Homo sapiens: one gene and its partners. The protein of the gene in region 2 interacts with the protein of the main gene of each other region in a pairwise test. Each region holds a gene or a part of one and is shown on either strand. Other genes may lie near its edges.

Region 1 (3,257 bases), on a different chromosome or scaffold from region 2:
TACAAAAAAAAAGACAGCAGGGAGGAATAAGATCTTCAAGAAACTCATTCCCTTAAAACCCACCCACATACATACACACACACAAAATTTTTTTAATTAAAAATATCACTATCATTTATGCCAGTGTTCCACTACTCTACAAAGATATGCATATTCTTTTAGAAAGTAGCATTAGTATTGCAGCTAGCCACAATAATTTAGTTGAAATTTAAATCACAATATTTAGCCCCTCTAAAAATGCAATACTTACATCCCTATATATAACTACATATCTATATTCTCTCTATATAGTATCCTGTATGTTATTTATCCACTATACATCTCTATATAGCTAATATGCTATATATTACTATATACAGTGATAATATAAATATACACACATTTTATGCATTATATATATAACTATACGGTAATACTATATGTATGTAATATATAGTAAGTGTGCCATAAAGTGTCACCTACCTTGGCTTCCAATATCAGAGACTTCTACTCCAGTGTCCATTTTTATACCATCAAGAATGATAGCTTGATCACCACCGCCTTCATCATCTTCCTTCTCAGAGTCTTCAAGATCACCCCAGGAGTTTTCTACTCCCTCTCCAATTTGGGCAGTTCCAGGAGTCCATAGCACAGGTGTAGAAACACTTAACAAGTTAAGAAAACTGAGTAACAAAAATATTGCTATTTGATGAACTGTTGAAGATGAGAATGAAAGTTTTCTTCTTGTAAGATTGATTCAAGTGTGCCCCAAGTTCCTAGGGGAAAAAAAACTTAATATAGCTACACTATGGATGGCTGAACAATGAAGAAGAAAAAAAACTCAGGCAAGATTTTATGGATGCAATTAATAAGAAATGTGAAGAGACAGATTCTCTCAACATTTTAGTTATAGTACTAAATTAAATTGGTCCTTAAAATCTGTTTTTTCCAGGATAACTGAATAGAAGCTGAATGTTATACCATCAACAGAATATGACTCACATCTCTATCTTGTATTTTAAGTGTTTTCTCTAACAAAGTACAGTGTTTACAAAAACTAATTTCAGTATACACATCCTTCATATAGCCTAATATTATAATGCCAAGTGTTATGAATCTTGTTACTGCAAAAACCACCAAATAAAGATACACTTCTGAAGGAGGTTCTGCTTCAGCAATGATTTCTTCTGCTTTTTCTTCTACATCCGAGGTATCAATAGGGGCCTTTTCCATTTTAAATGCTGTGATCCTTTGATTTGCTATAGACTCTGCAAAACCAAACTTTCCACCTTCTTTCCTGTATGTGGGGGTTTTTTTGGTGGGAAGGAAGGGGGAGGAAGGTAACAGATTGGATAGAAGACAGGAAGGGAAAAAAACTATTATTTTATCCTTTGGTGGATGAAAAATATTGGAAGAGAGTTAGTTTATCTAACTTAACCTCACCAATTTATTATGCCTAACAAGAGTAAATAGTTAGCATAATCATTTATTAAACCACGTGCCAGACCATGTGCTAGGTGCTTAAAATATACTATTCTCTAACCCTCAAATCAGCCCTACCAGGTAGTGTTAATATCCCATATTATAGAAGAGGACACTGAAATGCTGGGTTATGTATCTTGCTTAAGATAGCACAGTAAGAGGTAGAGATGGAAATCAACCTGTTTCCTTCCATTAATTTGAGTTACTAGATTATTTTTATCCTAAGAAAATGTTAACTGCTAAAGAAAAATCTTATGTCTCCAGGCACGGTGGCTCACACCTGTAATCCTAATATTTTGGGAGGCCCAGGCGGGTGGATCACCTGAGGTCAGGAGTTTGAGACCGGCCTGGCCAAAACGGCGAAACCCCATCCCTACTAAAAATATAAAAATTAGCCGGGCATGGTGGTATGCATCTGTAATCTCAGCTATTTGGGAGGCTGAGGCAGGAGAATCACTTGAAGCCATGAGGCGGAGGCTGCAGTGAGCTGAGATTGCACAAATGCACTATAGCCTAGGTGACAGAGTGAGAAGTGAGACTTCATCTCAAAAAACAAACAAAAATCTTATATGATTTTTCAATATAGGTTACATTTAAATTGCAGAAAATATAACAAGTCCAATTTTCTAAAAACACATTAAATAGTATACTCAATTCAGATTAACAAATAAGGAAAGATCAAGTGTGAAATTTATATGGTTGCCCTCGTTCAAGGAAGATCCTTAAGAAAAAAAATATATTAAAAGACCATTTAGGGCCATTTCCTGTTCCCTGTGTTGTATCTTGGAGTCTGGATTAATGAAGACCTCTTGCTCTTAGGAGGGTCTTTCCTCTTTATTGTTTTAGAATTCTGGACTTGACCCAGACTTAAATTCCCATCTGTGATGCATTTTGCAATAAGTGGGTTTGATGCCAGCACTTTGAAAGATATCCCTCATAAAACAAAAGGACAAGAATCACCAGCTCCCACACAAAGTAAAAAACGTGAACCTAATTTTAGCAGTGTTAATAAGGAGCAACTATCCACAAGTCACTGCATCAATAATGCTTGTGTTATAACATCCTCTCCTCCCTAAGGCACAGGAGCAAGTGACACATACTTGTCTGGGAACCAGTTTCATTAATACTTTTATTGTATCCGTCCAAAGATGAGTAGCAATATCTGTTACCAGTTTCACTACCTTTCGGAGTTTTGGGTAACATAACTATACCATGGTATTTACACTTTTTAATGAGTCAATTTTAATTGAAATTGCCATTCTAACTTTGTATGTGAAATCAAGTTCATGCATAATAAAGCTTGCTTATACTAAAAAAAATAATAAAAATTTAAAAAATGAAAATAAAAGACCACTTAGTTCTGGAAAAGTTACTTACCTTACTTTTTGGTCATTCTCCAAAGCTTTCAATATTAGCTCTGTAATTTCTGCTACTTTCACACCAGCGATTTTACTGCATCTCAGAACCTATTTATAAAAGTGAATTCTGTTGTTTAAAGACAATAAACCAAATAGTTTTCTCTAATGAAACTAAAACCATGAAATTTTTCTACCTTTATAATTTAAGCCTGACTTTTCCAAACATGAATACAATGTAAACACAGATTAAGGCAAGATGTGAAAGTTGTTTTAAGATATGTGAAGGACTGTCACATCAAGGGAACAGACATAAAAACTTTCTTATACAACAGTATAAAAGATACCACAGAAGAGGCCACAGACACATATATGCTCCAGGATGCACTAACTTCCTTTTTCTGTGGGTAATCTGGGTAGTACTTGTGATGCTGGTAAAGA
Region 2 (3,658 bases):
AGTGAGACTCTTTAAAAAAAAAAAAAAAAAAAGGTATTGTTAGATTTGATAGGTTAGGGAAATGCCTTTACTTTCAAGAGATTCGTATTATGAAATGCAAATATCAACAACCAAAATCTAGACAGCTATAATAAGCCATGCCATAGTGGTTAATGAAAATTACTACAGAATAGCATTTCCCAACCAGGGGTGATTTTATACCTCACCCCCCAAAAGGGGTATTCAGCAATGTCTGGAGACATTTTTGGTTGTCACAAAGGAGATAGGGAGTGCTAGCGGCATTTAGTAGACAAAGGCCAGGGATGCTGCTACACATCCTACAATGGACGGCACAGCCCACAGCAAAGGATTATCCAAAATGTCACCAATGCAAGGCTGAGAAACCCTGCCACAGACATACTACAAGAATGAAAATTATTATTATTACTATTTTTTAAGACAGAGTCTCTGTCTGTCACCCAGGCTGGAGTGCAGTGGCACAATCTTGGTTCACTGCAACCTCCGCCTTCCAGGTTCAAGTGATTCTCCTGCCTCAGCCTCCTGAGTAGCTGGGATTACAGGTGCCTGCCACCACACCTGGCTAATTTTTGTATTTTTAGTAGAGACAGGGTTTCACTATGTTAGCAAGGCTGGTCTTGAACTCCTGACCTCAGGTGCTCTGCCTGCCTCAGCCTCCCAAAATGATGGGATTACAGGCGTGAGCCACCATGCCCGGCGAGAATGAAAATTATTAATAATTGAACAAAGAGGTGAACAGATACGTAATAAAGCAAATATAGCAAAATGTTAACAACCGTATAAACTATGTGATGGGTATATCATGTTCACTGTATAATTTACTTTTCTATGTTAAAAAATTTTCACAATAAAATGTTGAGAGCCAGGCATAGTGGCTCGTGCCTATAATCCCAGCAATTTGGGAAGCTGAGGTGGGAGGACTGCTTGAGCCCAGGAGTTCAACACCAGCCTGGGCAACAGTGAAACTTCATCTCTACAATAAACACAACATAAAATTAGCTGGACGCAATGGCACACGCCTGTACTCCCAGCTACCCACAAGGCTCAGGCAGGAGTATTACTTGAGCCCAGGAGGTAGAGGCTGCAGTGGGCCATGACTGCGCCACTGCACTTCGGCCTAGGAGACACAGCAAGACCCTGTCTCTAAAAAAAAATAAAAACAATCTTCAGTTACCCTCTGAACAAGATAAGTTTGAACTGTGCCCCAAAAATAGGTATTTTGTGTTTGAACTCAAAAAATAAAAAACGTTGGAAAAAAAATGAAGTCCTAATTATATATCCTAATTATATGTTTAGCAAACAAATTTGCAATATAGATAAGCCTAAATTCTTATGGTACTAAAATAATAAAACTGATATAACTTGAGGAACCATCAAGATACTCACTAACACGTTCATGTAGAAGCAAGTAAGGATATTTCAGTATTTCAAGAAGAGGAACTCGAAGCTTATTTTCAAAGTCTTGCCCAGTGATGTCAAACAGTGGCATCTCTCCATTATTGTCTACTATATATAACTCATCATCATCTCCAATTTCTGCCTTCATGGATTTTTCAAAGTGATTTATGAGACGTAAGGTTTCTAATTCCCATAAAACCTAGAGGAAAATAAAATGGGCAGTGTGCGTTATGTCTTATCATCAACAAAATACACTGAATGTGACGACCTAGAAAGCCTTTTCCTAAGTACAAAAATTCTGAAATGTAAAGTATTAGAGCTTGTATTTTAGATTTAAAGAAAACTATTCAAATGTGGCCACTTTTATGAAAAGTGAGTACACAGAGTATGAGATATTGGCTAGGCACAGTGGCTCACAGCTGTAATCCCAGCATTTTGGAAGGCTGAGGTAGGAGGACTGTTTCAGGTCAGGAGTTCGAGACCAGCCTGGGTAGCAAAGCAAGACCCTGTCACTAAAAAAAAAAAAAATAGAAAAATTAGCTAGGTGTGGTGCATGCCTACAGTCCTAGCTTCTCTGGAGGCTGAAGCAAAAGGATCACTTGAGCCCAAGAATCTGAAGCTACAGTGAGCTATGATTGTGCCACTGTACTCCAGTCTGGATGACATAGGGAAACCCTGCCTCTAAGAGAAAAAGAAAACAGGCCAGGCACACTGGCTCCTGCCTGTAATCCCAGCACTTTGAGAGGCTGAGGTGGGCGGATCACCTGAGGTCGGGAGTTCAGAACCACCCTGACCAACACGGAGGAACCTCGTCTCTACTAAAAATACAAAAATAGCCAGGCGTAGTGGTGCATGCCTGTAATCCCATATTCGGGAGGCTGAAGCAGGAGAATCGCTTGAACCCAGGAGGCGGAGGTTGCAGTGAGCCAAGATCACGCCACTGCACTCCAGCCTGGGCAACAACAGGGAAACTCCATCTCAAACAAAAAACCAAACAAACGAAAAAAAACAAGAAAACAAAAAATAGTATGCTATGTTTAAACACTTTTTATTTTTTTTTGAGACAGAATCTCGCTGTCGCCCAGGCTGGAGTGCAATGGCGTGGTCTCAGCTCACCGCAACCTTGGCCTCCCAGGTTCAAGCGATTCTCCTGCCTCAGCCTCCTGAGTAGCTGGGATTACAGGCGCCCACCACCACGCCTGGCTAATTTTTGTATTTTAGTAGAGACGGACTTTCACCATGATGGCCAGGCTGGTCTCAAACTGCTGACCTCGTAATCCACCTGCCTCAGCATCCCAAAGTGCTGGGATTACAGGTGTAAGCTACAGCACTCAGCCTTAAACACTTCTCTTGTAGAAGTTTTCTATAAATATCTCAACATCCCTATCAACTACATTCAAAAAAAAAAAAAAGAGAAGCTGGAGCCTCTCTGTCAAATGCAAAACCGAGGCCCTTCTATGTCTTCCCTTCTATGTTCTAGCCATAGCTAACTACCTTAGTGCAGCTTGTGGTATAAAAGACGCTGGATAGCTTCATAATTAGAAAACTTTATAAAGTGCACGTTTCTCAACACAAGTCCATTACTAATCATCCTCTCCTCTATATACTGTATATATCTCTATGGTCTACGTTCTGTTTTTCATCAATAAATAAACCAAATATTCAAAGCCAAATATTTAGAATTATATCTTTCACTTTTGTTATCATGACTGGAAAATATGCTTGCCCTTAAAGGTTTATGCCATTTGCCCATTAAAAAAAGAAAAAAAGAAGTTATTATTACCAATTAAAAAAAAAAAACCCTGGCCAGGCGCAGTGGCTCACAGCTGTAATCCCAGCACTTTGGGAGGCCGAGGTGGGCAGATCACCTGACGTCAGGAGTTTTGAGACCAGCTGGGCCAACATGGTAAAACCCCATCTCTACTAAAAATAAAAAATTAGCCGGGTGTGGTGGCACGTGCCTTTAGTCCCAGCTACTTGGGAGGCTGAGGCAGGAGAATCGCTTGAACCCACCTGGGAGGCAGAGGTTGAAGTGAGCCAAGATCACGCCACTGCACTCCAGCCTGGACAAGAGAGTGAGACTCTGTCTCAAAAAAAAAACAAAACAAAAAAAAAACAACCCACTAACAAAAACCCAGGCCATTCAGATACTCAGATACATGCATGTATTATAGCACTGACCAAAAAATTATGAAACAAATCCCCTCCCAATGACTTTATTTCATTAAATTATTTTATACCA
Region 3 (3,658 bases), about 100 Mb from region 2:
TCTAGTTCTTGATCTCTTTTTGTCTCTTCTCCCTCTAGGTCTGCTACTTTCCCTGCTTCTGGATCGTTTACTTTTCATTCTTTTCTTCCCATGATGCTTTCTATGATTCTTCTGATCATGCCCACTTCTACTCTGAGAACGTGAATCTGAACTTCTTGATCTTCCCCTCTTTCTGTGTCTATGGTTATATGGAGAATATACTCTGTCTCCTCTTACAGATGAGTTCAGGTTTCTGGGAGATGACAATGATGTAGATCGTTTCTCTTCCTTCTTTGATTTGATTCTTGTACTAGAATCACAATGACCTTTATTTATTTGTTCATCCTTTCCAAGGACAGAGTGTGGAGATGAGCATCTACTAACATCGCTATCACCAGAACTGTAAGATTGCTCCTGTTCTTGTGTCTTCACTGTCTCCATTTTCTCATAAGAACCTAAGTCCTCAGAATCAGAGGACAGTTCAACAAGTTCTGGGGTCCTCTCAGCTAGTGGTTTAACAAACCCAACAATGACACAATTATCTGAAGAATCATCACTGTCATTATTTAGGTCGTCATTGGTTTGTACTCCTTGTATCTGAGACGTGGCTCCTCCTGTGACAAGTTCTTCATCTGAACTGTCAGAAGTATTTAAAAGAGAAGACATAGTAACGTGTACCTGCTCTGAGCTTGAGTAAGATGGTCCTGGAGTTTCATCATCCCATGGTGCCTGACTAACAGTGGCTACATTAATATCCAGCTCTTGGGTCTCAGCCTCATCTGGAGATATTGTTATGACTGAAGAATCAGAATGGCTGCCTTCTTCGTATGAAGGAGCAGGGCAATCATAATTGGCATGCTGGTCAAAGGCTGCCATGTTAAAAGGAGATCGGGCAAAACTGATAAATTCATGTATAAAATGCTCAGTTCGATTAAGTAAAAATGGTCTTAAATCAGACACAAATGCCTGACTCTCCAAGTCATAGCGAGTAACATTACTCATGATAATATGCTGGACAATATTCACTAAAGATCCATGAGCTCCAAAAAGAACTGTAAGTTCACGTTTTAACCAGGGGACTAATCTGTGAAGGCAAGCTGGATTTCTACGGAAAAATTCAGCTGAAATATCCCTGTAGCGGCCACCATCTTCAATATTTCTAACTCGAGCACCAGCACGATAAAGAGTTCGTCTAAAATTAATAATATCTTGTTCTTGAATTTTCCGCAAAGATCTTTCATCTGCCGTAGTTGGCCTCCTTACTGCAATCTGTCTCATAAACTGAGGAATTTCAACATCTCTAGGTCTTGTTGAAATGCCTAACCCTTCAAACAGTACTCCACTATCCGGTGGAGTTGTTGTTCTTCTGTTCACAGGACCACTAGGTGAATACACAGAAGCATTTCGTTCCCTTGTCAGAGTTGTACGGTAGCGAAATCGTCGATCAGGGGTGACAAAAGAACCATTATACGAAGGCCTTAGGACATACTCCTTGAAGTCATCTTCTGCCCTCACAGAATGGAAAATAGAATCAAAGGGCTGTTTACATAGTGGGCATTCAGCTTTGTTTTTTGACCACTCCTGTACACAGCGAAAACAGAACTTATGTAAGCAGCGATCTAAGTAAGACACATTATCAAATCTATCCAAGCATATAGGACACTTAGAATCAGGAGATGCATCAGCTGGTACTGTCTGTTGCAATTTGCTAGTGCCAGCTTTAGGTGAAAAGTTGTCCATTTTAAATTCCTTAGCAGCTGATGCCATTATCTGTAAAAGGGAAAGAAATATATCAGTAACCTGATAATAGAGGAATGACTAAATAGTCTCAACAAAAATGCAAATAAAGACCTTGAAACTTATTTTGGTGAAAATACTTAAGTGACCCATTACTTTTGTTTTATTTTATAAAGGGGCACTGTAGCATAGTAATATAGTGCTTAAAGCATAAGCTCTGAAGTCAGATTTCCTAAGACTGAATCCTGGTTCCACACTACCAGCGTGACTATGTGCCAGTTAGTATCTCTGTGCTTTAATTTCATCTGCAGGTCAGTGATAACAGAATCTGCCTTACAGGGTTTGTGAAGATGTAAAAAGCCCTTAGAAAAGGCACCTGCTACATAGTAAAGCTCTCAAATATTATGTAACATTCTATTATTCTTTTTAAAAATAATTTGAGAAATATCTGACATATAAAAAAAAAAAGTACCAAATACCCATGTATCCACCACTTATGTTATGCCCCTTATCTTCCCCTCCTATCACTCTCTAGAAAACAAAAAACAAAAACACCACACTCCTCAGTTGATGTTATTTCTATGCATGGCTTTATACCTTTCATATACATATGCCACTAACAATACAGACTACTGATTTATCTGTGATATTTTGTATGTACTTTTCTAAAACAACTTTGGTGACATAACTTACATACCAGAAAGTTCACCTGTTTAAACCAATCCTATGATTTTTAGTGAAAGATTCTTTTTTCAACCTTAGAAAGCTAATTTTAAAAAGGGAGAGGAAACTTTTAGTGAAGATTAAATAATAAATGAAAAAGCAGCCAAGAGGCAGTGCCTGGCTCACAGTAGGTGCTGAGTAAATGTCAGCTGTTATTATTACTACACTATTATATTCAGTTAATCACTCATTCCATTCAGCATTCCTAATAAGCCTTCCTTTAGCTTTTTTCTTTAATCCAAAAGTCAGGCCACAGAATATCTTGAAATCATGTTTTTGGTCCCCTTCCCTATTATCCTTTCCCATAAGGATGACTAGAATATTAAAGATTAGTTTGTTTTATCAGTTTACATTGGCTCAAAACTTTGCTAGAGCTTGAAATCTAGTATGCGTTTTGACTTTATCTCATAAACTCCAAAGCTGCATTTTATACTAATCATTTTGAGTATATTGACTATTGGGGAGTCAGGCGCGGTGGCTCATGCCTGTAATCCAGCACTTTGGGAGGCCAAGGCAGGCAGATCACCTGAGGTCAGGAGTTCAAGACCAGCCTGGCCAACGTTGTGAAACCTTGTCTCTACTAAGAATACAAAAATTAGCCGGGCATGGTGGCAGGCACCTGTAATCCCAGCTACTTGGGAGGCTGAGACAGGAGAATCGCTTGAACCCAGGAGGCAGAGGTTGCAGTGAGCTGAGACTGCACCATTGCAGTGGGTGACAAGAGTGAAACTCTGTCTCAAAACAAATAAACAAACAACAACAAAAAACTACTAGGCCCTTGGTTTCCCAGGGCCTAATATTCATCTTCCTCCACCTCCTTTATCACAGGAGGTTCCATCACTAGTCAACTGGGGTCAAGTTAATCAAATAACAGAATTGTAATTTTCTAAATAGACTCATTGGCCTTAACAAACTATAAGAAAAACCAATAAACAAAACCCACAACAAAAACTCATGACTGAAATACAAGTATTCCACCATAGCTTTCATATTAAACCTGCTCACTTTAGGGCATCTTGGCTTTCTCAGAACCATAACTTAATAGAGAATCAATTAATGCTAAATAAGCGTTTCTTCAGGGGTCCAGGTATGTCTAGTCTTCTATTTACTGGACTGAAAATGCAAAAACATCATCACTGTCCTGGAAGGTCTGGAAAAGCAGGATTATAAATACATAATACTGCTTTTTTGTTCATAAACAGTCTAAAACCCTAATACT

Evidence for each region.
Region 1: the proteins of SETX (region 2) and EXOSC9 interact in a two-hybrid assay, tested with the Homo sapiens proteins (one study listed by BioGRID and IntAct).
Region 3: the proteins of SETX (region 2) and TOPORS interact in a two-hybrid assay, tested with the Homo sapiens proteins (one study listed by BioGRID and IntAct).

Annotation. Positions count from the first base shown.
Region 1 is NC_000004.12:121,811,253-121,814,509, reverse strand, and holds part of EXOSC9 (exosome complex component RRP45), read right to left. Parts: intron 2,928-3,257; coding exon 2,839-2,927; intron 1,277-2,838; coding exon 1,130-1,276; intron 645-1,129; coding exon 463-644; intron 1-462. UniProt on the Homo sapiens protein: Non-catalytic component of the RNA exosome complex which has 3'->5' exoribonuclease activity and participates in a multitude of cellular RNA processing and degradation events.
Region 2 is NC_000009.12:132,344,857-132,348,514, forward strand, and holds part of SETX (probable helicase senataxin), read right to left. Parts: intron 1,616-3,658; coding exon 1,405-1,615; intron 1-1,404. UniProt on the Homo sapiens protein: Probable RNA/DNA helicase involved in diverse aspects of RNA metabolism and genomic integrity.
Region 3 is NC_000009.12:32,542,578-32,546,235, forward strand, and holds part of TOPORS (E3 ubiquitin-protein ligase Topors), read right to left. Parts: intron 1,750-3,658; coding exon 1-1,749. UniProt on the Homo sapiens protein: Functions as an E3 ubiquitin-protein ligase and as an E3 SUMO1-protein ligase. Probable tumor suppressor involved in cell growth, cell proliferation and apoptosis that regulates p53/TP53 stability through ubiquitin-dependent degradation.